4 separate regions of the Homo sapiens genome follow, and regions 1, 2 and 4 are each linked to region 3. Evidence: fine-mapped expression QTL. A gene starts in region 3. Each other region holds a variant in brackets. All regions are shown on one strand. Distances are between the middles of the regions.

The links. PIP is the estimated chance that this variant, and not a neighbour inherited with it, causes the effect.
Region 1: its variant is the best candidate, but not a certain one, in a credible set for the expression of APBA2 in blood mononuclear cells (TOPMed, PIP 0.65).
Region 2: its variant is the best candidate, but not a certain one, in a credible set for the expression of APBA2 in follicular helper T cells (Schmiedel 2018, PIP 0.81).
Region 4: its variant is the best candidate, but not a certain one, in a credible set for the expression of APBA2 in whole blood (TOPMed, PIP 0.82).

Annotation. Positions count from the first base shown.
Region 1 is chr15:28,916,453-28,922,605 of GRCh38, forward strand. APBA2 (amyloid beta precursor protein binding family A member 2) reads left to right here. Exons shown (of 15, transcript NM_001353788.2): 2 at 5,188-5,297. Among named protein-coding and RNA genes, the nearest start is that of APBA2, 34 kb to the left of the region's middle. RefSeq lists enhancers at 1,666-2,188, 2,356-2,945 and a silencer at 1,854-2,148. The variant T/C (reference allele first, on the strand shown) is at 2,929.
Region 2 is chr15:28,983,246-28,989,398 of GRCh38, forward strand. All of the region lies in intron 2 of APBA2 (amyloid beta precursor protein binding family A member 2), which reads left to right. Among named protein-coding and RNA genes, the nearest start is that of APBA2, 100 kb to the left of the region's middle. The variant CAT/C (reference allele first, on the strand shown) is at 3,858.
Region 3 is chr15:28,883,044-28,889,196 of GRCh38, forward strand. APBA2 (amyloid beta precursor protein binding family A member 2) reads left to right here and starts at 2,931. Exons shown (of 15, transcript NM_001353788.2): 1 at 2,931-3,235.
Region 4 is chr15:28,942,034-28,948,103 of GRCh38, forward strand. All of the region lies in intron 2 of APBA2 (amyloid beta precursor protein binding family A member 2), which reads left to right. Among named protein-coding and RNA genes, the nearest start is that of APBA2, 59 kb to the left of the region's middle. The variant G/A (reference allele first, on the strand shown) is at 2,614.

The DNA.
Region 1 (6,153 bases), 33 kb after region 3:
AGTACACATATCTTTAATAAAGTAAAATGTCCAGGCCCCCTCTGCTCCCACCTGTCTCCCTCTCCCACCTCTCTCCCCGCTCCCCTCCCCAGAGGACATGGCTGACAAGCCTTTGAGGGGTTTCCCCTTTCTGTGTGCCTTTGCACGTGTGTATGGGCTGGGCAGTGTGTGTATTCTCTAGCCATCTTGACGGACCTGTAACTGGGATCTACACACGTGTGCTCGCTGTAGCTCACTTACCATTTTCCCTCAAAAACAGGCCTGTAAGATCCCTCACTGTAGTGCGCGTTGCCCTGCCTCTTTAAAAACGCCGTTGACTCTTCCAGCACGTGAACTCTGTCGTCATTTATTTAACCATTCTCTTATTTATGGGTACTTAGGTTTCCAGTTTTTTAAAAGATTGCGGCAATGAAAATCTTCAGACATCATTTTTTATACATGTGAGTCCTCCTGGAAATGGAATTTTTGGGCACAAGGATATGCCTATTTAAATTTTCGATAGAGAATGCTGAATTGCCTTTCTGAAAGGCTTCATTCTAAAGAAATACACTTCTCAAAAAAAGGGAAAGCTAGCAAAAAAGCAATTCTCTGCCAACAGCTGAATAGAGAGAGGGGGACTCTCTGAGGCCATGAGGTGGGAAATGTGGCAGCCTGGGAGAAGCCAGGGACCCGGGCAAAGGGTGGCATGGTTACTAACGTTTCCTTTCCTGTTTCCATCCTCCCTGCCCTCCCTCCAAACCCCCAGGAAAGCAGTACTGGGGAAAGACGGTAAATAACTAAAATCCTGAGAATTCTCATGAACACTCCTCAATTTGGAGAGAGAGGGACTGTGATGAGGGGGGTTGAGATGGTACCCAGAGCCTGATGGCCCTCACCAGCTTCAGGAGAAACCTGCTCCCCTCCAGGGCTCCTTCCTAGGGTCCGGCTTGCACTGCATTCTGGGAGAATCCTGTAGCCCCATCTTCCCTTTACCCATTGGCCGTTTAATGGTATCCCATTCTCACATTTAGCCTTTTGAATGAATCAACCACCATATTAAAAAATTAATAGATTTAATTTTTTTTTCAGCAGTTTTAGGTTTATGGAGAAATTGAGCAGAAAGTTTAGGGAGTTCTCCTGTACACCCTCACCCCATTTCCCCTGTTTCCTCATTATTAACATCTTACATTGGTGTGGTACATTCGTTACCATTGATGGGGCAGTATTATTATTAACTGGAGCCCATAGTTAAAACATATTGGGGTTCACTCTTCATGTTGTATATTTTATGAGTTTTGACAAATGGGGAATGACTCAGCTACCATGTCTTTGTTTTAGTAGATCGTTAGTTGCTTTTTGTCTTATTAGCTGACTCTTGTTTTGAGGAGAACTTTTTGTCACATCCTTTTGCACCCCGGCTTACTGTGGCGTGGGGCAGGGGTACTGGGGGCCAGCTGGTCTCTGGGGAGCAGCACTCACTGCATCCTGCCCCCGCCCCATTCTGCTCCTTTCTGGTCTCAGCAGCCTCCCTTGCTCCTTTCACCTGCCTACCCCAGCTCAGCTGCCTGCTGCTTAGATGCCACTGTGGGGCAAGGAAGCTGCCCCCAGTCGGTCCCCGAGGATTCTGCCCAGATAGGGATAAGAATCACCGCGAGTGTTTGCTGAGCACTTGGGAGGCATAGGCTCGGCGGGAAGGGAAGGCCTGCAGGCTGAGGTGGTCTGCTTTGAGTTTTGCAGCGTTGCCTGCGGTCTCCGTGGGTGAGGGAAAAGGCACAGGGAGGTGCAGAAGCGTTCCTGGCGCCACGGAGCCGGTCAGTGACAGAGCCGGGTCTCAACCCAGGCCACTGCCCTCGGCAGCCAAGCCCCTTCTTTATTTTGGAATGGCCACCTGGCCAACTGGCACACAGGGAGAACTCATGAAAGGAGGCGTGGCTCACTCCTGAAGGGAGAGGGACACAGGAGCAGCCTTGATGCGCAACGCCCCCTCCAGGCCCCGAGTCCCTGTCCTTGGAGGAAGCAGGACTCCCAGGTGGGAGAGGTGAAGCAGATGGCTTCCCCCACTGCAAGGAGGAATCCCGGTGCTCTTCTCCACCAGCCTTCCCTTTGGTCGCCCCCTGGCGTCCGCGTCATTGTGGGAACACTCGGGCGGGATGTATTTTAAAGGAGTGCCTGATGCGTGTGGGTGTGGTGGGGTTGGGGGTGGGGGTGGGGCTGGGGGTGGTTGCAGCGGGGCCTATGCAGGATCCCGGTTGGAGGGGGCTGCAGAGGCTACTGCTGGGCCTGGTGTCGCCATGGCAGCTGGAGAGCGGGCGACCGGTCGCTTGGCGTCCTGCTTGGGGTTGTTGCCCACATCACCGAGCGAACGTTCCTGTCCCGCCCACTCACTGCGAGGCTGGGCAGGGCCGCTTGCCAGTTAATTGTGGGGATTATTATTTTTTTTTTTTTGTAGACGGAGTCGCGCTCTGTCTCCCAGGCTGGAGTGCAGTGGCGCTATCTTGGCTCACTGCAAGCTCCGCCTCCAGGGTTCACGCCATTCTCCTGCCTCAGCCTCCGGAGTAGCTGGGACTACAGGCGCCCGCCACCACGCCCGGCTAATTTTTTGCGTTTTTTAGTAGAAACGAGGTTTCACCATGTTAGCAAAGATGGTCTCAATCTCCTGACCTCGTGATCCGCCCACCTAGGCCTCCCAAAATGTTGGGATTACAGGCGTGAGCCACTGCGCCCGGCCGGTTGTGGGGATTATCTGAGAGTTGCTGGAGTGTTCTGCACTTCCTTGCGAACCTTTTACCTGGGTGGGCAGGGGGAGAGGCCGAGTCAAGGGAAGGAGGCAGGATGCCACACACGCCCTGCAGGGAGAGTCATCTGCTGGGCACTGCGACACACAGAAAGCCAGGAGCCTGAGCCCCGCCCGCGGTTGTTGAACGGAGGGAGAATGAACAACCGCTGACT[T/C]CCTGGTTCCTGGGTGCCGCATCACTGCCCCTCTGCTCCGGGTCAAACCGGCTGTATGCTTAGCTTCAGGAACATGTGGCAGGTGGCAGCCCCCGGCCCCGTGGCAGGTAACGGTGGTTTTGCAGTGTGGCGTGCTGTGGGGGCCGGCAGGGGCACAGCTGGGCAGGCCAGGCTTTCTCTGGCTCAGTATGCAGGGCTGGTTCTTCCCAGAGGAGGCAGAGGTCAGGGAGGAGCTCTTTCCCTGTGTCTCCTGAACAGCTTCATCAGCACACCCTGCAGCGGGGACTCAGTGAGCATCCTGCAGCTGTCTTGTCCCAGAAGGGCTGTGTACTTTTGGCCCTGAGGGCAACCTCTGCATTTCCTTTCTGGGGGCTCCCAGATGAGCCCCGCTCCCCCAGGTCATCCTGATCCATATTGATGTGATAACCCCCTCCTCAGTCCGAAACATCTGGAGGCCCCGTTTGTCCGTGGGATAAGAATGGGCTTGAGCATGGCTGTGGGTGCTCCGTGTGGCGACAGTGGCATGTTCTGTGGCAGCTTGCTTCCTCTGTAGCCCGATGTCTTTGACTCCCAGCCCGATGCTCCCTCCTCACCCAGCAGAGGCCCCTCCTCGGCCTTTGCATTTGCTTTCATTTATCTTCCTTCTTTAAGGCTGCTTTTGAGGGTTTACTGGCCAGCAGCATCATGTGCAGTCTATAAACTGTGTGCCCTCTCGGGGCCAGGTAGGAGCCTGAGAGGGAATGGGAGAAGTGGTCACGAATGATTGTGAGGACTGCAGAAAGAAGACAGGGCTGAGAAGAGTGTGATTTCCCCTAGAATTCAGAGATGCCTGCACCAGCTGGGTTTTGAAGAATGAATAGGAGTTTGCCAGGAAGATTCTAGAGGAACAACAGCAACAAAAAGATTTAAACATGGGCACAGAAGAGGTGAGGCACAGATGGCACAGGGATTTGGGGTGTGATGGGGCAAGGAAGCCATGGGCAGGGTCTAGGCCCAGGACCTCAGGTGCTTTGCATGCCATGACTTGGAGGCAATGGCCTTGTCATGCAGAACTGTGCCTCCCTGGGCCCCATTAGAGTCCCTGGCTCTTGGTGTGCCTTTCATGCCCACACCACGGTAGGAGCAGGCAGGTGGGGTTTGGCCTGGGTTTCCCCAAAATGGACACTACTCCTTCTTGTGCTTCAGTATCAGAGTGGGCCCGTGGAGTGGGAATAAATGTTTGGGTTTAGGAGGCCTCCAGCTGGGTGGCCTGCTCCCAGGCAGGAAACACAGATTAGAGGAAGTATCAAGTTGGAAGGCAGCAGCCGTGGATGTTAAAGCTGGAGGAACCTCTTAAGGAATGGCTGTCAGCTCCCTCGTTTGGTGTGGTAGGAAGATGAGGGTGAGAGGGGTTGGGAGCAGGTGCTGGAGCTGGAGCCTGAACCCCCATATCTCAGTGCTGCCATCATCCTTCATAATAAGGAAACTGAGGCACAGGCAGGTTACATAGTCTTCTCAGGATGTCAGTGGCAGAGCTAGGACGTCTATCTCTGCAGCTCAGTTCTGTGCGAAGTCCAGGCAGATGGTGCTGATCAGTAAGGGGTGCTGGCTGAGCGCTGATGGCCACCTGCATCTCAAGGAGAAACAGTGTCACTGGCTAATCTGATGGCTTCTCTGGGCACCAGCACGTGGGCACCATCACCCTTTCTCTGCAGGGGGTTTGTTTAGTGTATTTGGTAGAACATCCCCCAGCCTACTAGGTGTGGCATGCTCTATGCCACAAGCTCTGTATCTCAGGCAGCATTTTGTACTTTGAAAAAACAAGTTGGGAACAGAACCCTGATGAATGTGTTTCATTTCCTGTCAGAGCAAATGAAACCTGAAATATTAATGGCACGAGATTTCCCTTATCTTCCTACAAAATCTTCCTACATTGAAAAATGTACTCCCCACAAGCTTAGCATGCAGCTCTGCTACCTGTGGCCCGAAATCATTAGTTGTCCATACTCACTGACCTTTGGAAATAAACACGAAGGTTCACTTGAAGACTTGGGGGAGAATCACGGTCAACTTGTGACGCTTGGTTTTTCAGATATTCAGCTGCTCTGGAGAGCCTTGGAGTTCCAGCTGCTCTAGAGGTTCTGGGGAGGGAGCTGTTAGCCTCCCATATGAGCGTGTGGCCCATCGTTGCCATCCACACCTGCCCCTCTGTGGGTGAATAAGTGGTTTCCTTTCTCAGCTGGTTGACGCTTCATTTGTTTGTGTTCTTTTTCTTTACAGTCTCCTGAATATTTACGCGTTGCTGAATCTCCTGTGGACAAACCACCAATAGGCCAGGACTGTCCTGTGGACAGACGGGGTGAGCCTCTTCTTGTGTCTGGAGATTCTGAGTGAGTAGAACCCGTTATGATCCCCACTGCACTTAATGTGGCATTCATGAATGAGTCTGGGCTGATGTGCTAATTGGGGGCCGTAAGAAGAGTTATAGCCACGATGGCCCTCACCTTTCTCTAATAAAAGCTTAAACACAGCTACGGTAAATATTTTTGCTTTCTGCTTTCACAAACTTCACATACGCTTACATTTATTTTGAGGCGAAAGGGGAAGAACAGACATTTACAGGGGACCAGTTGCTAGGAGAAGACTGTGCATTCCCTGTAACCCTGTCAGTCTCACCTCGGAGATCCTGTCCCTGGAGTGCCCCAGGTCCCTTTTCCCAGCTGCACTGAGTGCCTCTGTCCTCCTGGTGGAGCTGTGCTGCTTTCTTGGGCAGCCTCCCTTCCCCATGGGGTGCACATAGGCTGGGGGCATCCCGGTGGTCAGTTCTTCCCAGGGACCCAGGAGGAGGGGCTGGCAGAAAGTGGGCAGGTTCTTTCCGCTCGACCTGGCAATAACAATTCCTAAATTGCTCAGCACCCCAGGCTGCTTGCCTTGACCCAGGTAGCCAGTCCCAGGCACCACCAGTGTGGGCAGGGCCCTCCCCAGGGGCAGCAGCAGGGCAGCCCAAGACACTGGTGGCCACCACAGTTAGTCCCCACAAGGCGATTGTGCAGGACATGTTCTCGAGCTGCCTGCAGGGTCTGGTTGTGGGAGCAGCTCAGCCCCTCCTGCAGAGGTGGGAGCATCTTCTACAGCCAGCCATTGTCCCGCAGGAGCTCTGTGCCCAGTGGAATATCTCAGTGCAGTGCACAATGGGGCCACAGCTGTGTCACAGCCATGCTCTGTCCTTTAGTGGGCCGTCTGAGC
Region 2 (6,153 bases), 100 kb after region 3:
TGGGGAGGCGTCATGTAAGGTGGTCCTTGTCTGAGTAGAACCTGATTTTGAAAATGAAATTCATTTCCTTGCCTTCATTTTCCAGACGAAAAGATATGTATTTGTGGTGTGTGTGTGGCGGGAGAGTAATTGGCTTTGGTTTTGACAAGGAGGACACCAGAGTCCTGTTCTGATACTCAGTTTTGGGCCCATGCGTGACAATTCTGTGTTTCTTTTCAGCATTTGCCAATACATTATTTTCTAGAGTCTCTCCCAGCATACGGAAAAACCCCAAATTCAAATTTGACTTTTCTCTTCGAGGCTGGTTGTGGCATGCTGAAGCTCCCAAGGCATGTAATGTAGTGAACAAGGTGGCCTCCAGGAGCGCTGTCGGCTCATGGGCCCCACCCACCCACCTCGCGGTGTAGGAGGATCCACCAAGTCACTGTCAGAGTGGGTTGGAGAGACCTGGCCTGGGGTCAGCTCTGTGGGCAGATGGGCCCTTTCCCCCACTGGGTGGAGTACGCTCCTTAGTAGCCCAAGACAGAACATTGCCTTCTCCCGAGAAACCCACCTCTGGGGAAGGTTAGGCCATGGGATCTGCGGGAAGGGTTTTAGGAGTAGATTAATGGGATTTGTGATCCCAAGCACCCAGGCCACTCTGTGGTCCCCACCCCTGGGCTTGAGTCCTGCTGAGGTATAAGTGGTGCTAGAAGACCTCTGCCCTGCCCTGCCCTGCCCTGCCCCAGGAACCTGGCTTTCTCTGGGCTAATGAGTGTCCTCTCTGAAGGTATCCAGAGGCCGTGCAGACACTCACACTTTGGTGTGAGGCGTGCCCTCGGTTGATCAGTTACACTGCTGTGGGGTGCACAGGTGGCAAGGTGGGGGATTCTGGGATCGGGGAGGCTAGTCTGGGTGTAGGGTCCTGCCCTGGAGGGGCTCACAGTGGGGTTGAAAGCAAGCTCTCGAGGCGTTATTATTCGGGACTCTGAGTGCCGGGCCATGCTGGGGGAGTGAGGGCAGGGGGAGCTGCGGAGGCAGGGCTCTGAGGGCTTTAGAACAAGAGCCGGTGTGTGTTTCCCACTGAGTACCTGCCGGCACCTCATTTATGCCACGTAGCAACCCCATGACATAGGCTTATAGGGGACTATAATTATCCCCATTTCACAGCTGGGAGAACCTAGGCTTAGTGTCACAGAACCTAGGCTTAGCCACTGGGTGGCTGATACTGCCACCCAGTTCTGAGCCAGTATCAGCTTCCAGCCCCCTGACTCAGTCTCTCTGCTGTGGTTTCCTCTCAAGTGCCAGGATCCTTCCTGGTCCCGTTTCCAACTCAGACCAGTGGAGGGGCGCGCTGTGGTTACCACTCATTAGAAGAGAGGCAGGGTCTCTCTGTCTCTCTCTGGGTGTCCCCCACTGCCATCTCTGGGTGCTGGGGGAGCTGCTGTATATCTCTCTCTGTCTATCCCTATCTCTCCCTCCACTGCCATCTCTGGGGGTTGGGAGAGCTGCTCTGTCTCTCTATCTCTCTCCCCCCCCACCCCACTGCCATCTCTGGAGTTTGGGGGAGCTGCTCGCTCTCTCTCCCCCCTCCCACTGCCATCTCTGGAGGTTGGGGGAGCTGCTCTATCTCTCTCTCTCTCTCTCTCTCTCCCCCCACTGCCATCTCTGGGGGTTGGGGGGAGCTGCTCTCTCTCTCTCTCTCTCTCTCTCCCTCTCTCCCCCTCCGCCAACCACTGCCGTCTCTGGAGGTTGGGGGAGCTGCCTGGGATGCAGAGCGGCTTGGATTGGTGCTCCCTCTGCCTCAGTGGTTGAGCTGACCTCTGTCCAGTCTGTACACATTGGATCCTGAGGCTGAGCTTGGGTGGCTGTGGCAGGAAGGTTTGGTGACATCACACCCTTCAGGCTTGTGTCTGTCTGAGCCAGGCTCTGACTGGCTGGGAGAAGAGGAGGAGGTGGGGTTCTGGGAGGCCCTGAGGCTGAGCACGGCTGCTGTGCTCTGTGGCTGCACTGCAGGGGCACGGGCTCAGCATGTTCTGGGCCAGGGCACACAATGCTTTCAGATCAGGCTCCAGCACCCCACACGCCCCTTCATGCTTTGCACTTTTTGTCTACCAGCCAGAGGGCAGTGAATAATGAGAACAAACAACATCGGGTCCAGATTTTCGTGGTCATTTTCCTAACAAGCCGAGGTCAGAGAGCACTGAAAGGAGGCCTAAGTGCTTCTGCCACCTCAGCTGACTGTTTTTCAAAAAGGAAAGCATGCGTGGGATGTGTGTATTAGGTGTTACGGTGATGTCTGTTGTCAGATCATGGCCAGAAAAGGGGTTGTTTCAATTAAAATGGATTTTGGACTTCGTTTTTCTTGGAATGAGTAAATTGAGGGAAATAGCACATGTTGAGATTTTGGATTTCTGCTCTTAGAAAGGATTTAAAATAAGTGGTCTTCAGTAGTTCCACAGCGGATCTTCGAGACTGGTACAGATGGGGTCTCCTGGATGTAACGAGTTCTTGCTGCTTTAACTGGATCCGGTTGACTCTGTCTGACCAGCTCAGCTGGTTCGTTCTATGAAACGCACTTCTGCTTTCTGGAATCTGAAGGAAGGAGAGAGATAGAAGACAAAGAAGGACAGATGTGTTGGTGGCCAGACCCTGGCTTCTGAACAGTCCTTCCTGATGGCTTCAGGACCTGGGAGGAGCGGCGGAGCAGGTGGCTGCCCTGGGCTTGCCAGACACCTCCATTCCAGCAAGATCCTCCTGGGGGATGTGGTGCCCTCCCTGCCTCTCAGGCACAAGCATATGCTTGTTTGGCCTAAAAAAGTCTCCTTAATTAAAATTAATATCGTAATGCAGTAAATCCTTCTGCCTCCTCTTCCCCTGCCCAGTTACAATTCCCGGCGGCTCTCCAGCCCATAGAGGAGGCTTCTCAAAGTTTCCTGCCTCCTGGAGGAGAGAAGCCATTCCCCGATCACCCAAAAGGACAAAGTATGTGCCCACTCTGCGTCCTTGCTTGTCACTGCCCAACATCTGCAAACATTAACTAAAGTGCTGAGCCCATTCAGGTGTAGGACTCACTAGTTGGTTAATGTGACAGACAGCGTTTCCTGTGCCAGCGCTGGCTGGTCACTTCCTGTCATCCAGCACTCTTGAGTGTTGCAGTGGATGCCTGTTTCGTAGGAACACTCAGCCTGTTCCGTAAGAAGGAGCGCCACTTCTCAGCCTGTACTTAGCAGGTCACTACTGTTGGCCACTCTGCTTTTCTTTTTAAAATTTTAATTATTAAAAAAATTTTTTTTGAGAGTTTCCCTCTGTTGTCCAAGCTGAAGTGCAGTGGTATGATCTTGGCTCACTGTCACCTCTGCCTCCCTAGTAGCTGGGATTACAGGTGTGTGCCACCACGCCTGGCTAATTTTTGTATTTTTAGTAGAGACGGGGTTTCACCATGTTGGCCAGGCTGGTCTTGAACTCCTGACCTCAGGTGATCTGCCTGCCTTGGCCTCCCAGAGTGTTCGGATTACAGGCATGAGCTACTGCTCCTGGTCCCCTTCTTATTTTTATGTTAGTCTTTGGAAACAATTGGCATATATTTTAGTCTGTTTAGGTTACTGTAACAAAATACCATAAACTAGGTGGTTTACAAACAACAGACATTTATTTCTCACAGTTCTGGATGTGGGAAGTCTAAGATCAAGGCGCCAACAGATTTGCTGTCTGGTGAGGGCTTCCTGGTTCATAGAAGGCCATCTTCTCACTACATCCTCACTTGGTGGAAGGCTCAGGAGAGTTCTCTGGAGTCTCTTTTACAAAGGCACAAATCCCATTAATCACCTCCCAAAGGCCCACTGTCTAATAGCATCACTTTGGGCATTAGGTTTTAA[CAT/C]GTGAATTTGGAGAAGGGCAGGCACAAACATTCAGTCTGTAGCAGCATACAAAAATGTAACAAGAATAATGTGATGAACAGCTAGGTATCCACAAGCTGCTAAAGGTAGAGAATACTACCATATTGGTTACCTATTTCTGTGTAACATATTATGCCAACACTTAGTGGTATAAAACAGTAAACATTTATTATCTCACACATAGTCTGTGGGCCAGGAATATGGAAGCAGCTGAGCTGGGTGGTTCTAGTGGAGGGGAAAGATGTGAGCTGGGGCACCTGAAGGCTTGACTGGGGCAGGAGGATCCACGTCCAAGATCGACTTCACCTGGCTGTTGGCTGGCAAGAGGGCTCAGTTCTTTGCCATATAGACCTTTCCACAGAGCTGCTTGAGTGTCCTCACAACATGGCAGGCGGATTCCCCCAGCCTCAGTGATTCAAGAGAGAGTATAGAGAGAGTAGAGAGGAAGCCGCTGTGCCTTTTATGACCTGGTCTCATTAGTCATACACTGTCATTTCTGCTTATGTCTGTTCACTAGAAGCAAGTCACTAAATTCAGGCCACACTCAAAGAGAAAGGAATTAGGTTCCACTCTTTGAAGGGAGTGTCAAAGAATATGTGGAGAGAGATATATATATATATATATATATATTCTTTTTTTTTTTTTTTTGAGATGGAGTCTCACCACTCTGTCACCCAGGCTGGAGTGCAGTGATGTGATCTCAGCTCACCGCAACCTCCGCCTGCCAGGTTCAAGTGATTCTTCTGCCTCAGCCTCCCAAGTAGCTGGAATTTACAGGCACACACCACCACACCTGGCTAATTTGGGTATTTTTAATAAGGCAGGGTTTCACTATGTTGGCCAGGCTGGTCTCGAATTCCTGACCTCAAGTGGTCTGCCCGCCTCAGCCTCCCAAAGTGCTGGGATTACAGGCATGAGCCACCATGCCCAGCCTGTGGATGTATTTTAAAGCATCATAACACCATTGCAGCTAGAGCCCCTCCCCAGTTGCATCTTGTCTTTCACACAGAGGTAACTACTGTTGAAGTTTGATCCTTGTTTATGGCCTAGTACATGTATAAGTATTTCTATCCCTGTTAGTTCTGCATTTTGTCTGTAAGCGTTATGTAAATGATATCACCTTGTATTTTTTTCTGTAGTGTGCCTTTTTTTTTTTTTGAGATGGAGTCTTGCTCTGTTGCCCAGGCTGGAGTGCAGTGGCGTGATCTCGGCTCACGGCAAGCTCCACCTCCTGGGTTCAAGCGATTCTCCTACCTCAGCTTCCCGAGTAGCTGGGATTACAGGCGCCCGCCACTGCACACAGCTAATTTTTGTATTTTTGGTAGAGACGAGGTTTCGCCATGTTGGCCAGGCTGGTCTCGAACTCCTGGCCTCAAGTGATCCGCCTACCTTGGCCTCCCAAAATGCTAGGATTGCAGGCCTGAGCCACCGCGCCCATCCAGTGTGCCTTTTTTGCTTAACATTATGTTTGTGAGATTCATCCATGTGAAAACAGGTGGCTGTATTTCATGCATTTTCACTGCTGTGTGGTATTGCATTGTACAAACATAAGACTATTTGTCGTTCTCCATTGATGGATGCTTAGTTGGGTTCCTGTGACTTGCTGCTACAAACAAGGTTGTCTTGAGTACTCAGGTATGTGTCTCTCTGTGAACGTGAGCTGGATTTGTCAGTATATTTAGCAAGGATTGGAATTGCTATGGGAGAGAGTACAGTAATCTTCAAACGTACTAGAAACAGCTAAATTTTATTCCAAAGTGTGTGGGTGTCCTCATGAGTGGTCCCACTGACAGCGTATGAGTTTCCTCTTCTCCTTTTTCTTGACAGCACTTGGTGTTGTCAGACATTTTACATTTTTGTCTAATGCGTGAAAGTGCTGTCTACATGAGGTATTAATTTGCATTTCCCTGCGTGCCAGTGAGGCTAACATCTTTCCATGTATCTATTTTCACATATATATTTTTTCATATATTTGGTATTCTGTGAATGACTGGCCATATCTTTTGCACCTTTTTTTCTGTTTTCTTATTGATCAATCTGATCCGTTGTTGAGTTTATGTACCATAAATATCTTTTTTCTTTTCTTCCTTCTAACATAATGTAGAAGCTAAGAGTGTGGATTCTGGGGCCACATTGCCAGGGTTAAATCCCAGCTTCAACACTTCCTGTGTGGCCTTAGGCTTAGTCTGTGTATGCCTCAGTGTCCTCATCTGCAAAATGGGATGATGGCTCCCCACGGTGGGCCTGGGAGGATGCGCAGGTTCGTATCTGTGAA
Region 3 (6,153 bases):
TCTCAGCTCACTGCAACCTTTGCCTCCCAGGTTCAAGCGATTCTCCTGCCTCAGCCTCCCAAGTAGCTGGGATTACCGGTGCTCACCACCATGCCCAACTAATTTTTGTATTTCTAGTAGAGACGGGGTTTCACCGTGTTGGCCAGGCTTGTCTCAAACTCCTGACCTCAAGTGATCCACCTGCCTCGGCCTCCCAAAGTGTTGGGATTACAGGTGTGAGCCACCATGCCTGGCTTAATTTGCATTTCTTATTATGAATAAGGGAGGACAGCTTTTCAGATGTTTAAAAGTCATTTGTATTTCCTTCCCTGTGAATTGTCTGCTTCTTACCCTTTACCTGTTTCTTTGTCTTTTCTGTTAAGAGACAGTCTCATACTGCTGCCCAGGCTTAGTGCATTGGGATGATCATAGTTCACTGCAGCCTGGAACTCCTGGGCTTAAGTGATCCTCCTGTCTCAGCCTCCTGAGTAGCTGGGATTACAGGTGTGAGCCAAGGTGGGGGCCTGGTGATGATCCGTGATGCCTTCTTTTGATTTTTTTTTTCTTATCAATTTCTAGATGCTATCTATGTGTTAGGGAAATTAGCTGCTTGTGATATGAATTGCAAATAATTTTTTCCCCTTTGTTGTAGACTTTGCTTATGGTAGTGATTGCCATGCCAGAGTTTCTTTGAAGTCAAACTTAGCTGTTTTTTTGTTACCACTTTTTGATTTTGTTGCATACTTAGAAAGGCCTTTCCCATTCCAAGATACTTTTTTTTTTTAAATTTAAAATTTTAAGTTCCCAGATACAAGTACAGAACGTGTAGGTTTGTTACATGGGTATATGTGTGCCATGGTGGTCTGCTGCACCTATCAACCTGTCATCTAGGTTTTAAGCCTCACATGCACTAACTGTTTGTCCTAATGATTCTTCAAAAATTCTCTGAATACTGGCAGTTGGCTCAAGCTCACCAGATTTAGGAGTCCTGAGTGAGGCTGGGGGCAGGCCTGTACCTTTATTTTTAAATTTATTTAATTTATTTCATTTTTTAAAATGATAGGGTCTTGTTCTGTCACCAAGGCTGGAGTGCAGTGGCACGATCACAACTCACTGCAGTCTTGAACTCCTGGGCTCAAGCGAGCCTCCTGCTTCAGCTTCCCAAAGTATTGGGATTATAGGTGGGAGCCACTGTTCTTGGCCCTAGGCCTATACCTTTCATCTTGTGGACTGAGGACTTCAGCCACTATCACTCCCGGGTGCTGCGATGGGGTTTAATTTCCAGTGACTGGCCCAGAGCCTGCTCATGGGAAGATCTCAAGGGAGGCTGTTGAAGGAACAGCATGCAACTTACCGGCCCACACACGTTCACACAGATGGGGGTGGGGGTTTGAGGAGGTGGGGGGTGTTGTGTGGATCAGCTTCAGGCACAGGTGTCTGGTTTCCTATGGGATGTGACCACATAACAGTAAGGCAAGAAGATGACTGCATTTATCTTCTCAGAATCACTTCTTCTTAATTGTTGCTTCCCACTATTGGCATTGGTGAAAGGCTGGGCCACAGGAGGCTGGATGAACTTTGTGTTAGCCAGGTAAGCAGAATGTCTATGCAGGTGGAAAGTAGACAGTGAAGGTGTGCTCATCTGAGTACGGAGGGGCATAGGTCAGGAACCTCGTTGGCCTGCCCTGGCCTTTGCCCCTTTGTTTGGCCCTGTGGCTACAAAGCTCCCCTACCAGGAGCAGCCCCCACTGGCGGCTCTGGCCCTGGAAACCTGTGAATGTTTGGTGGGGGCAGGGTGTGGAGAGGCCAAGTCCACAGTGTATCTAACCCTAGTCCATCTCAGGATTCGGCTTCCCCCAGCCCCTTCTCCTTAGGGTCTCAGCTCGGGCCCTCAGGGCAGCAGGAAGATGCGCTGTCCTCACTCCCAAGTCCCCCTGCCCTTCTGTGCCTTCTGACCTGGGCAGAACTTCCCATGCCACAGCTTCGCCTAATCCAGCCACAGGAGAAAAGAAAACGAGGGCAAATCACCACGATTTGGGGGGAGGGAGGCCCCTGAGCCCCCGCTCTGCCCAGACAAGGCATCCTGTGCATCTCCCATGGCTCATCACATCTGCCTGGGACTCAGTGAAAGGGCCAGAGGGCCAAAGGTGACACCGGAGTCTCCAGCACGACCTTCGAGGGCCTCCAGGGCATTTCTCGCGCTGTAGGGGCGGAAGACTGGCTCCCCTGGGGATGCATGTGAGTGTCTAGGAGTGTACGCTCCCCAGGGCCCCGCGGAGGTCAGGGTTCTCTCCATTTAGGACAGCAAGGAGAGAAAGCCCTGGAGTGAGGCCCTGGGGCTGGGGGCTAAAGCAGCACAGAGTATCAGAAACGGGGTGCTGGGATGGTTACCGGGGACCGCCAGGGAAGACTTGGGAGTCCAGCATGCGCCTAGGGGAGCTGCGGTGGGGAGGCAGCAGGGGGCCTCCTCTGCCGGATGGGGCCTTCGGAGGCCGCGATCCCCGAGAGTTCTTCGCTCGAGGGTTCTTCGCTCTAGGGTCCCCCATTACAGCTGCGCGGGGCCGAGCAAGCAGGGCGCGGCGGCCGGGGCAAGGTGCGGAGCCTCGCGTTCACCGGCTCTACCTGCGGAGCCTCGCGTTCACTGGCTCTACCTGCGGGACCAGACCCCTGCAGCTCCCCAGCCAGCACGGCCGGGGCACGCCCGGGAATCTGTGTGCTCCCCAGGGCCCGGGGCGTTCGGGGCGCCGCGCCTTCCAGCGCCTGGGTCCCAGCCCCGATCCCGGAGACCGGCCCGGGGGGACCCGGGGTCCCGAGTGCACCCTCCTGCCCTGCAGACTGTCCCAGCGCCGGGGCCAGGGGGCGCAGGACCTCGCGCACGCCCGGCACGGACGCATCTTTGTCTTCCCTCTCTTCACGGCGCGCGATCTAGCCGGGAATCGTTTTCCGGCCCCAGTGTGCCCGGCGCGGGTGAGGCGGAAGCGGCCGGGGCGGGGGCGCAGGCCCGGCAGCCGCAGGCCGGTGCGGGATGCGCCCCGCAGCCGCGCCGCGTGCGCCCGGCAGAGGCGGCCCTGCGTGCCGTACGCTGCGTCCGGGGCGCGCCCGCCGCTATTCGGGAAGCTATTCAGCTTCCCGGGCTCATTAGCAGTCGCGGTGTGCGGCTCGGCGCGGGCTCACAAAGAGCTCGGCCTCGCGGACTGAGCCGGCGGCAGCGGGGCGGGGACGGCGGCGTACCCGGGCAGCCCAGCGCCCTGGCCAGGTAAGCTGGGGAACCTGGGCTGCCTGACTTGCCGGCGGCGGCAGCCTGGGGCCGCCCGGGGCGCCGCGAGGACCCGGACGCGTGGGGGGCGGCGCGGAGGTTGCGGCCCGAGCGCTCCAGAGCGCTGCCCTCCCGACTCAGCGTGGCTGCGGGGCGGCCGCCGCTGGGATATGGGGGTACAGCCCGGCGGCCCCACTCCTCTCTGACCGGCCGCTTCCCCCTCCCACGACGGGTGGGCGGGCGGGGCGGGGACCAGGCGGCGGCTCTCGCATCCCGCGCGGGGGGCACCGCGGCAAGGGGCCACCCGGCGCGGACAAGAGGCGCTGTGTGGCGGGGCTGTCCGCTCGACTCCTGCCGGGCTGGCCGGGCTGCTTGGCACCGGCATCAAGTCCCCGTGCCGGGCGGCAACTACTGAGTTTGGGGTCGCCTCTGGGTTCGCTGCCCCCAGAGAACCCAAGCCCAGATCTTCGCCCCCTTCCCTTTCCCTTTATAATAAGGCCCAGAGGGGAAAACTTATCAATTCAAAACCCCACACCCCGTTGCTCCTGGGCTGCAGGTGCCCGGTTGGGGGCACGGCGCGGACCTGCCCCTCGGCCTGGCCCCTTCCCCATGGCAGGCACTGCCTGGCAAGGCTGCTGGCGGGAGATCTGGCTGCAGATGGTGAAGGAGAACATCGAGGCCCCCGGTCCCCAAGCAGGGCGCCATGGGCCGGGCAGCGGGCCTCGGTGTGCCCAGGCGGGGAGGGGGCGAACTTCCTTTCTCCGACGCCTGCCGAGGACCGCCGTGGAGAGCAGAGCCTTAGAGGGGCCTGCTAGTCTTAACTTCGTATTTACTGGCAGAAGGAAGGCTTAATTTTTCAGATCTATTCAGATACGACCTGGCAGGCACCAGACATAAATCTGTGGTTGAGTGCAGTCAGCTCCTAAATGGGCATGTGGAGGGTGAGGCACCCCGAACTCGGCATCTTGCGTCTGGCACTGTTTTTGGGCTAAACTGCCTCTGGCCTCTTCAACCTCCTGTGCCTCTTTCTGTTTTTGTTTTTGTTTTATTTTTCTGTTTTCCTTCCTCTTTGAGAAAGGACAGTGATTTTAGAAATAATGACCCGAGAGCTTTGCAGGTTGAAGTGGGACGAGTTTTCCTAAGGTGCAGGTTGGCAGGTGCCAGGAGCCTGCAGGTGGCTTTTTCTCAGGCCTCTGGGTCAGGGTCCCTCCAATGAGGTGAGGCAGGGGTTTCTCCTGTGTGTCGCCACTACGCAGGGGACAGGATCTGGGTTTCCCAGTCCAGGGCGTCCAGGATGCCCTGCCCTCTGTGCTGATTCCTGGGTGACCGTGGGGGCTGCTTCCCCCTGCAGCCTGGGCTGGAGAGGGTCTCCTGAGCTTAGGATCTGCCAGGCAGGAGGGCCAGGGTGACACGGACCTGGAACGCTGGGGCTCCAGGCAATGTCCAGGGCGTGAGTGGGTAAAGCTGGAGCTTGTGGCTGTGTGCCGGCAGCCTTCCCTCGGTGGGCTCTAGCAGCACTGTCAGGGGGGCCCTTGGAGTGGGCTCCATGGCTGGGCTGGGACTGGGTGATGGCATTAGCGATGGGGCACCGAGTCTTCCCTCTTATTTATTAGGAAGTGTGGTCTGTGCCCCTCCCTACTGCCGGTCTCCTGGGCTCCTGGGATGGGAGGAGCTGCAGGCTGAGTCCCACGGGGTGTGAGTGTGTGTGAGCAGGAGAGTTGGGTGGGCGCTGGAAGGAGGTGAAACTGGTGACCGTCAGCTCCTCATTCTCTTCCACCTTGCATGTTTTCTCTGACACCCTAGACTCAAGTTGTGGCCTGCTAGTTAACTTGTTTACAAAACCTTTTTAAGTAGTTCTAACCTCTTTTTTTCAACAAAATGTTAGTTTTACAGGCATAATTGGTGGGGATGGATTGTGAAATGGAGGTGCATAAATACCTAGTTTGCCAACTGAGCTAAGAAATACTGGATAAAAATAAGAGATAATTGTAAAAGACACTGATCACACCCCTGGAAGCTGAGAGGGGTGATAAGACACCTTGATTTTTCCTAGACAAAACTGAGGAAGTCAGAGGAAAAACAGTTGATGGTGAGGTTGGCATCAGGCTGGGCTTTGTTTGGATTGGGCGGCGGTGGCTGTGGTGAGGGCTGTTGGAGTGGGGAGAGTGGGGGTTGAGCCTGGCTTCAGAGACCCCCTCGAGGCCTCAGCTCCTCTCCGGCGCTCCTGGCTGTCCTCTGCCACGCATACCTGCCCCGGTGACTCAACAGGTGTGGGCCTCAGGTGACACCATGGTCCGAAGTCGTGGAGAAACCTTTACTGTCCAGGGGAGGAGAGGACTGGCGGTCGGTGGGGATCGAGACCCAGCACACATCACTGGGTGGCTCGAATGTCTTCGGCAGAGATCACATGCCCTGCCTTGCAGCCTGGTCCTTAGAGAATGGGGAGAGTGGAGAGAGCTCTGGGCCTGGGTGGCGGGCGGTCCTGGCTGTATCACTCACAGGCTGCGTGCCCTCCCCATGCAGTCTCAGTTCCTCACCCTTGCCAGGTGGCTGTGAGGACTGGGAACGTGGAGGCACAGGTAGGATGTAAGGTAGCCACTGACCACCAGGCAGGCCTCCCCGATGTAGGTCAAGTTTGAGATGGTTGCTCACCAGGAGGCAGCCTGTGTGCCCGGTGGGGGCTGGGGGTGAAGTTTGAGAGGGTTGCTCACCAGGAGGCAGCCTGTGTGCCCAGCGGGGGCTGGGGGTGCTCTTTGTTCCCTTGGGTGGTGGTTGGCCCGAGTGCCCACAGGGAGGCTTCTCTGGCTCCTTCGTTTCCCAGAGTTCCTCCCCAACCCCCTGCCGCCCACCGCCTGGGTTGGGTCCAGCTCGTGTCTCAGAGCAGCCTGCTGGCACAGGCTGAGTCAGCTGTCGTGGGC
Region 4 (6,070 bases), 59 kb after region 3:
CAGGCGTGAGCCACTGCGCCTGGCCTCATAGCCATTTATTAAGCTAAATATTTACACTATGTTTTCTAAAAAAGTAAAATTATTTTAACAACATAAAAGTCAAAGGAAGAAGTTCCTGGAAGTGGTCTTGAAGGTGCAAGTGGGCAATTGTGAACAGTCTGCTGGTGCAGGATGTGGCGCTTCGTCGTGGGAGTGCTGTCTCCCTCCACTGTGGGCCGCGCTCCTTCCTGCAGCACTCGCAGCTCACTGCTGCCATTTCCCGTGTAATCCTGTCTTCTGTCTTGACTCAGACCCACTCGTATCTTTGTTGTCTGGGGTCTGCGCTTTACTAGGGGACCTTGGAGTTCTGTTGTTGGCTGTGACTTCATTCCATGTTCTTTCCCATAAGGAACTGTGTTGGGAATAGTTTGATGATTCCATGGTCATGCCTTTTGGCCTTTTCTGTGAGGGGCGAATGGGGAGCACATGGAACTTATTGCTGCTGTCTTCAGTATTTCTTGGGGGAGGAACTCGGTGTGGTTTTTTCCAGCCTGAGCCCACCCTGAGGTCGGTTGTTGGACCCACCTGCCTGATGCAGACTGCCAGGGTCTTCCTGCCAGCGCGGGATCCCCCACTTTCCATTTCCTCTTGCAACCATCAGACCCAGGGACACATGTGTGGCTCCTTCTCCAGTAAGCGACCTGGGAGGTATCCTTACCCCAGGACCCGAGTGAGCGTCTGTTGGAGACTCCCAGGTGTGCAGGCCAGAAGGACATGCCCAGTTGTGTGGCTGCCTCTTCCCTGCAGGGAGAGAGAGAAGGCTGGCGTGGGGCTTCTCCCCGGGCTGGGCCTGCGTTGTCCCCGAGGCCCGTGGCCGCTGGAGCAGCCCCTGAGCGACTCTGCTCCTTCCTGGGCCTCGGTTTCCTCGTTCTCAGGGGGGGCTTCTGCCAGACTGTCTGGGAGATGTTTTCAGCCCTCTAATTTGTGCATGCTGTGACTCACCCAAAATTACAGAGCAAAGCTAATGGAATCAGGAATTTATAAATCCCCCTTCCTTCCTCACGCGGTTCCTTGAGTTTTTGAAAACTACCATTCAGAATGAGACAGTGGCCTTCTACCTGAGGCCACAGGGTTGTCTGTGGCCTAACTGATTTCTGGCCAGTCAGGCTGGGTGAGCCTCAACAGCGTGAACATACTAAAGGCTTCTTCCTTGCCCTGGGACACCGGTTCTGGCCAGGCTACAGGGCTCACAGCTCAGACCTGCCTCTGCCTGGGAGTGACACGGTCCCCTCTGCTCACGTGCCATGGATCAGAGCTGCCATGTGGCCCAGCTTAGGGAGACCAAGAAGCATGGGAGACTCCCCGGCTATTTGACGAGCAGGACCTGTCCATGCCATCTCCCATCTGTGCCCTGCATCTGCGACTTCCAAAGAGCATTGGCCTGCACTGTCCTATGAAATGCTACCACAAGCCCTTTCTGGCAAGTGCAGTTAATCCTGTTCGGTGGGTTAGGAAACCAAGGCTCTGAGGGAGGCTTTCAGTGCCACAGCTGGGAGGTGAGAGTTGTGAGTTGCAGATGTCTCAGCCATCCCGAGCGTGACCATTCTGAGTGGCGGGAAGCTTTTCACTCAGCACTGAGTACATGATGCCTACAGTGTTCTGGGCCTCCTCCATCAGGAATCATGGGCCCTTCTCCCCAGGACGCTCATCGATGGCCCCGGCTCCTCCAGCCCTGGCTCCTCCAGCCCTGGCTCCTCCAGCCCTGGCCCCTCCTTGGGCTGTGGCTGCACCCTGGGCTCCACCCATTCCAGACCCAAAGGCCCATGGGCCAACCAGACACCGCCCCTACATGGTGTGCCCACAGGCTCTTATGGATCCCAGAGGGCCCCCTTTGTCCTGCTTGGGGAGGCTGGGGTGGCCGCTACACAGTGCCCTGCCGTGGCCCCCATGCTCCCCAACTCCCTACTGTGTCTGCTGGACGTTTGAACAGCCTCCTGCCCTAAACCTTGCATCCTGCCACCTCTGGCCCACTCTCCACCCTGGCCTACTCTTCACCCTGGCCCACTCTCCACTCTGCAGCCAAGTGATCTTTTCCAGCAGCACATGTGACTGAGTATTGCTGATGGCTGCGACTGCTTTCAGGATCAAATTGTGTCTCTTCCGAAAGAGACATCAGATAAGAGACATTGGAAAAGAACATGAATTGCGGTCACCCAGAGCTCTTTCGCGGTTTGGGATTAAGCCATGCAGAAAGGTGTGCAGGAGCCTAGATCACCTGCCAACCTGCCTCTTGCCATCCTCTATTTTGTACGCTCAGTCACCCCAGAAAATTGCTCCGGCCCTTGGATTTACCTCCGTGTCACTGTCCATCCGGTACCCTCTGCCTGGGATGCCTCCTGGGTCTCCATCACCCGCCTCACTCGTTTTTCCTCTGCACATGGCATCTACTTCCGCCCTTCCGCAGGACACCTTCCCAGGCTGGGTCTGGACCACCCTGCGGACTCGCTCCTCGCAATACTGGCCACATGCCCTCAAGCCCATCTGTTTCTTAGAGTCGATGTCCCCTAAGGTGTGAGTTCCTGGTGAGCAGGAGAACCTGTGCCTTTTATAACCTGGTGTGCTGCTCGGCGTGCC[G/A]AAGGAACCAAGGCGATGTTGAGAAATGAATGGAACAGCTGTACTGTGCAGAGATACGTGCAGAGAGGGGCAGGAGGAAGCCTCCACTTCAGACTTCAGTGTGAAAAAGAGACACTGGAAAAGAACATGAAATGTGGTTGCCCGATGCTCCTTTGTGGTTTGGGATGAAGCCCTGCAGAAAGGTCCGGGCAGCACTGCAGCCCCGCCATGCTGCTTGCCCCACGTGGGTTCTGGAGTCTGGTGGCACCTGGAAGAGCAGGTGGAGTGGAAGCTGCTAGAAGGTGGGAACCTGAGGGTCCTGGGCTGGCAGAGGCCTTGCCCCCGCTTTGCCTAGGGAGGCAGTGAGCTTCCTCCTTCATTTGAACTTTGCCCTGAAGAGCTGGGCCTTCCTTGTTCATGGGGAGCCTGATGCTTCTTCCCAGCACACCACAGCCACACAGGAGGTGCAGCAGAGCATGCGGAGATCCACCTGGCAACTCACAGCCAGCCGCGGCGTCACTGTCAGGACTCTGTGAAAAACAAGGTTTCTGTTTGGCGCGGGGACGACCAGAGGGAAGGAGACTGGTAGAGCCTAAGTATTCAGCCGACCATTAAAAAGTGAAAGTCAGAAGCAATGTAAGTCAAAACTCAGGACATCTCAGGGTGACCTTGGCCACTCACAGTTGTTCGTGTTTGAAATCACATTGATTCTCGCAGCTGTCCAAGGCGCAGGAAATAACCACTCTGGGTGATGTCGTTGGGATGGTTTTGTCAGCACTCAGGATTTGGGGGTTTGTTATGAAAATTTCACGTTACAAAAAAGGGAGAAGTGCAGTTTTGTGTGTTTAGGGTTATTGGTGGCTAGACATCTGAAAATCAGGATCCCCGCTCATTGATTTTTTTTTTTTTTTTGAGATGGAGTCTTGCTCTGTTGCCCAGGCTAGAGTGCAGTGGCCAATCTTGGTTCACTGCAACCTCGGCCTCCCAAGTTCAAGCGATTCTCCTGCCTCAGCCTCCTGAGTAACTGGGATTACAGGCGCCTGCCCCCCGCCTGGCTAATTTTTGTATTTTTAGTAGAGACAGGGTTTTAACATGTTAGCCAGGCTGGTAACTCCTGACCTCAGGTGATCAGCCTACCTCGGCCTCCCAAAGTGCTGGGATTACAGGCGGTGCCGCTCCTTACATTTTGTTGCTGTTCCCAGGAAGATTGATGGAGGGAAAACACACTCTCCACAGAGGAGATCCTGTGTTTACAGCCGTCTTAGATAGAGTCGTGATGAGGAGGAGGACTCTGGGCCGACAGTGTATGAGGGTTCCGCCTCATAAGGCTGTTTGGTGTTTGTGCCCACACTGGGTGTGACGGGTTGAAGCAGTGGATAACAAGCCTATTACTGTTATGCAAATGTGGGCGGCCCAGTTGCATTCTTCATGCATGTGTCTCTCCCTAATGAGTTTCAAAATCTTAATTTAGATCTTGATTTTGTTGCAGATAGGATTCCAATTTAAAGAGCGTTTGTCATTCAGAGACTGTGGTAGACAGGAAAATGGTCTTCAGAGATATCCACACCCTAGCTGTGGCGCCTGTAAATCTGTTACTTTATGTGACAGAAAGGACTTTGCAGATCTGATTAAGTTATGGATCTTGAGATGGAGAGATTATTCTGGATTATTCAGGTGGGCCCTTATAATCATGGTGACCCTTATAAGAAGGAAGCTGGAGGAGTTAATTGTCAGAGGAGAAGGTGCTGTGACGATGGAAGTGGAGATTGAAGTGATGCACTTTGAAGATGGAGGAAGCGGCTGCAAGCCAAGGAATGCAGGTGGCTTCTAGAAGCCAGAAAAGGCAAGGAAACAGATTCTTGCCTAGAGCCTCCGTAAAGAACCAGGCCAGTCGACACCATGACCTTAGCCCAAGGAGACCTGCGTGGGATTCCTTTCTTTTTATTTTCTTTCTTTTCTTTTCTTTTTTTTGAGACAGGATCTTGCTCTGTCATCCAGGCTGGAGTGCAGTGGCGCCATCTCAGCTCACTGCAACCTCCACCTCTTAGGTTCAAGCCATTTTCGTGCCTCAACCACCCATGTAGCTGGGATACAGGCACATGCCACCATGTCTGGCTAATTTTTGCATTTTTTTGTAAAGATAAGGTCTTGCTATATTGCCTAGGCTGTTCTTGAACTCCTGGGCTCAAGGGATCCACCTGCCTCAGCCTCGCCAAGTGCTGGGATTATAGGCGTGAGCCACTGCACTCAGCCCTCTGTGGGATTTCTGAACTATAGAACTGTAAGAGAGCAAGTTGGTGTTGTCTGAAGTCACTAGATTTATGGTGACTTGTCACAGCAGCCATAGGAAGCTAACACAGAGACTCAGGGACCAAGCCTTTCCATTGCAGCAAGATTGATCAGTTGTTCTCTCCCATCACGGGGCTCTCATTTTGCTCAAGTCCTATGTCATCGTCCCTCTTTTCCTGGAGAGCAGGAGCTGACTTCAGACGCCAGATCTTCTTTTCCTGCCACAGCGCACTTGCAGCTCTTGGGAGGTGAAGGTTCTGCCTGCTGCTCTTCTGGAATGATAAACGCTGGGCCCTTAGTGGAAATGTCAGGTGAAATGGAAGGCAGCTCCTTGGGTGCAGTGACAGGACCTGCAGTGGGCCTGTTGGAGCTGGCACTGAGGGCTGCTCCCCATCCCTCTGTGGGTGTATTGGCTGCATGCTGACTGGCCGTCCTCGTGGGCGTGGCCTGGTGTGTGTGCAGGTGGACAGAGGCTGGAGTATCCTTGAGAGGCTGTGCGTTCTCTCGGCTTCTTTTGGAGCCAGAGCCATCAGGGAGCCATCACCTGTCCTGGCCTGACCTGTCCTGTCATGAGTGCTGTGTTCCTTGAGCTGCCTCTCAGGCTAGGGGATGAGGTGGCTGTGCTCAGGCCTGGCTTCTGCAGGCTTCTTCCTATCTTTGGAGCGGCTCCACCACTGGAATCTGTGACATGAGAGGCCCGTAGCCCAGGCCCATCATCTAGAATGGAGAGGCAGCCCCACAGCCTCCTGGGAACCAGAGCTCCTTGCCTGGGTCATCACAGAACTAAGCCTTAAAATCAGGAGGCCTCAGCAAAGCGCCTCTAGAGACTCAAACCACCTTGTAAATCTCACTGGGAGTGAACGATTGACTTTTTACTCAGTACCAGGACTACATACTACCTCATTTATGGGTTTTTCCTCTAAATTGCTAATGTTTGAAGTGGAAATTTTCAAAACTGACTAATGTCTCTGCTTCAAGATTTGCTGTCAGGCAACTTATTTATAAATAAAGCAGCTTTTCAAGGAGCACTAACAAACAATCCCTCGTGTTAGGAGACTCAGAGCCAAGTCGTGGCTCTAGGTTGGCCTTGCAGGGTGTTAGGGAGCCAGTTCTCCACCCCAGGGCCATGGACTTCTGGGTCCTTGCACCATCCAGAGAGGTGATGATGTGGTTATTCCCATGTATAGAG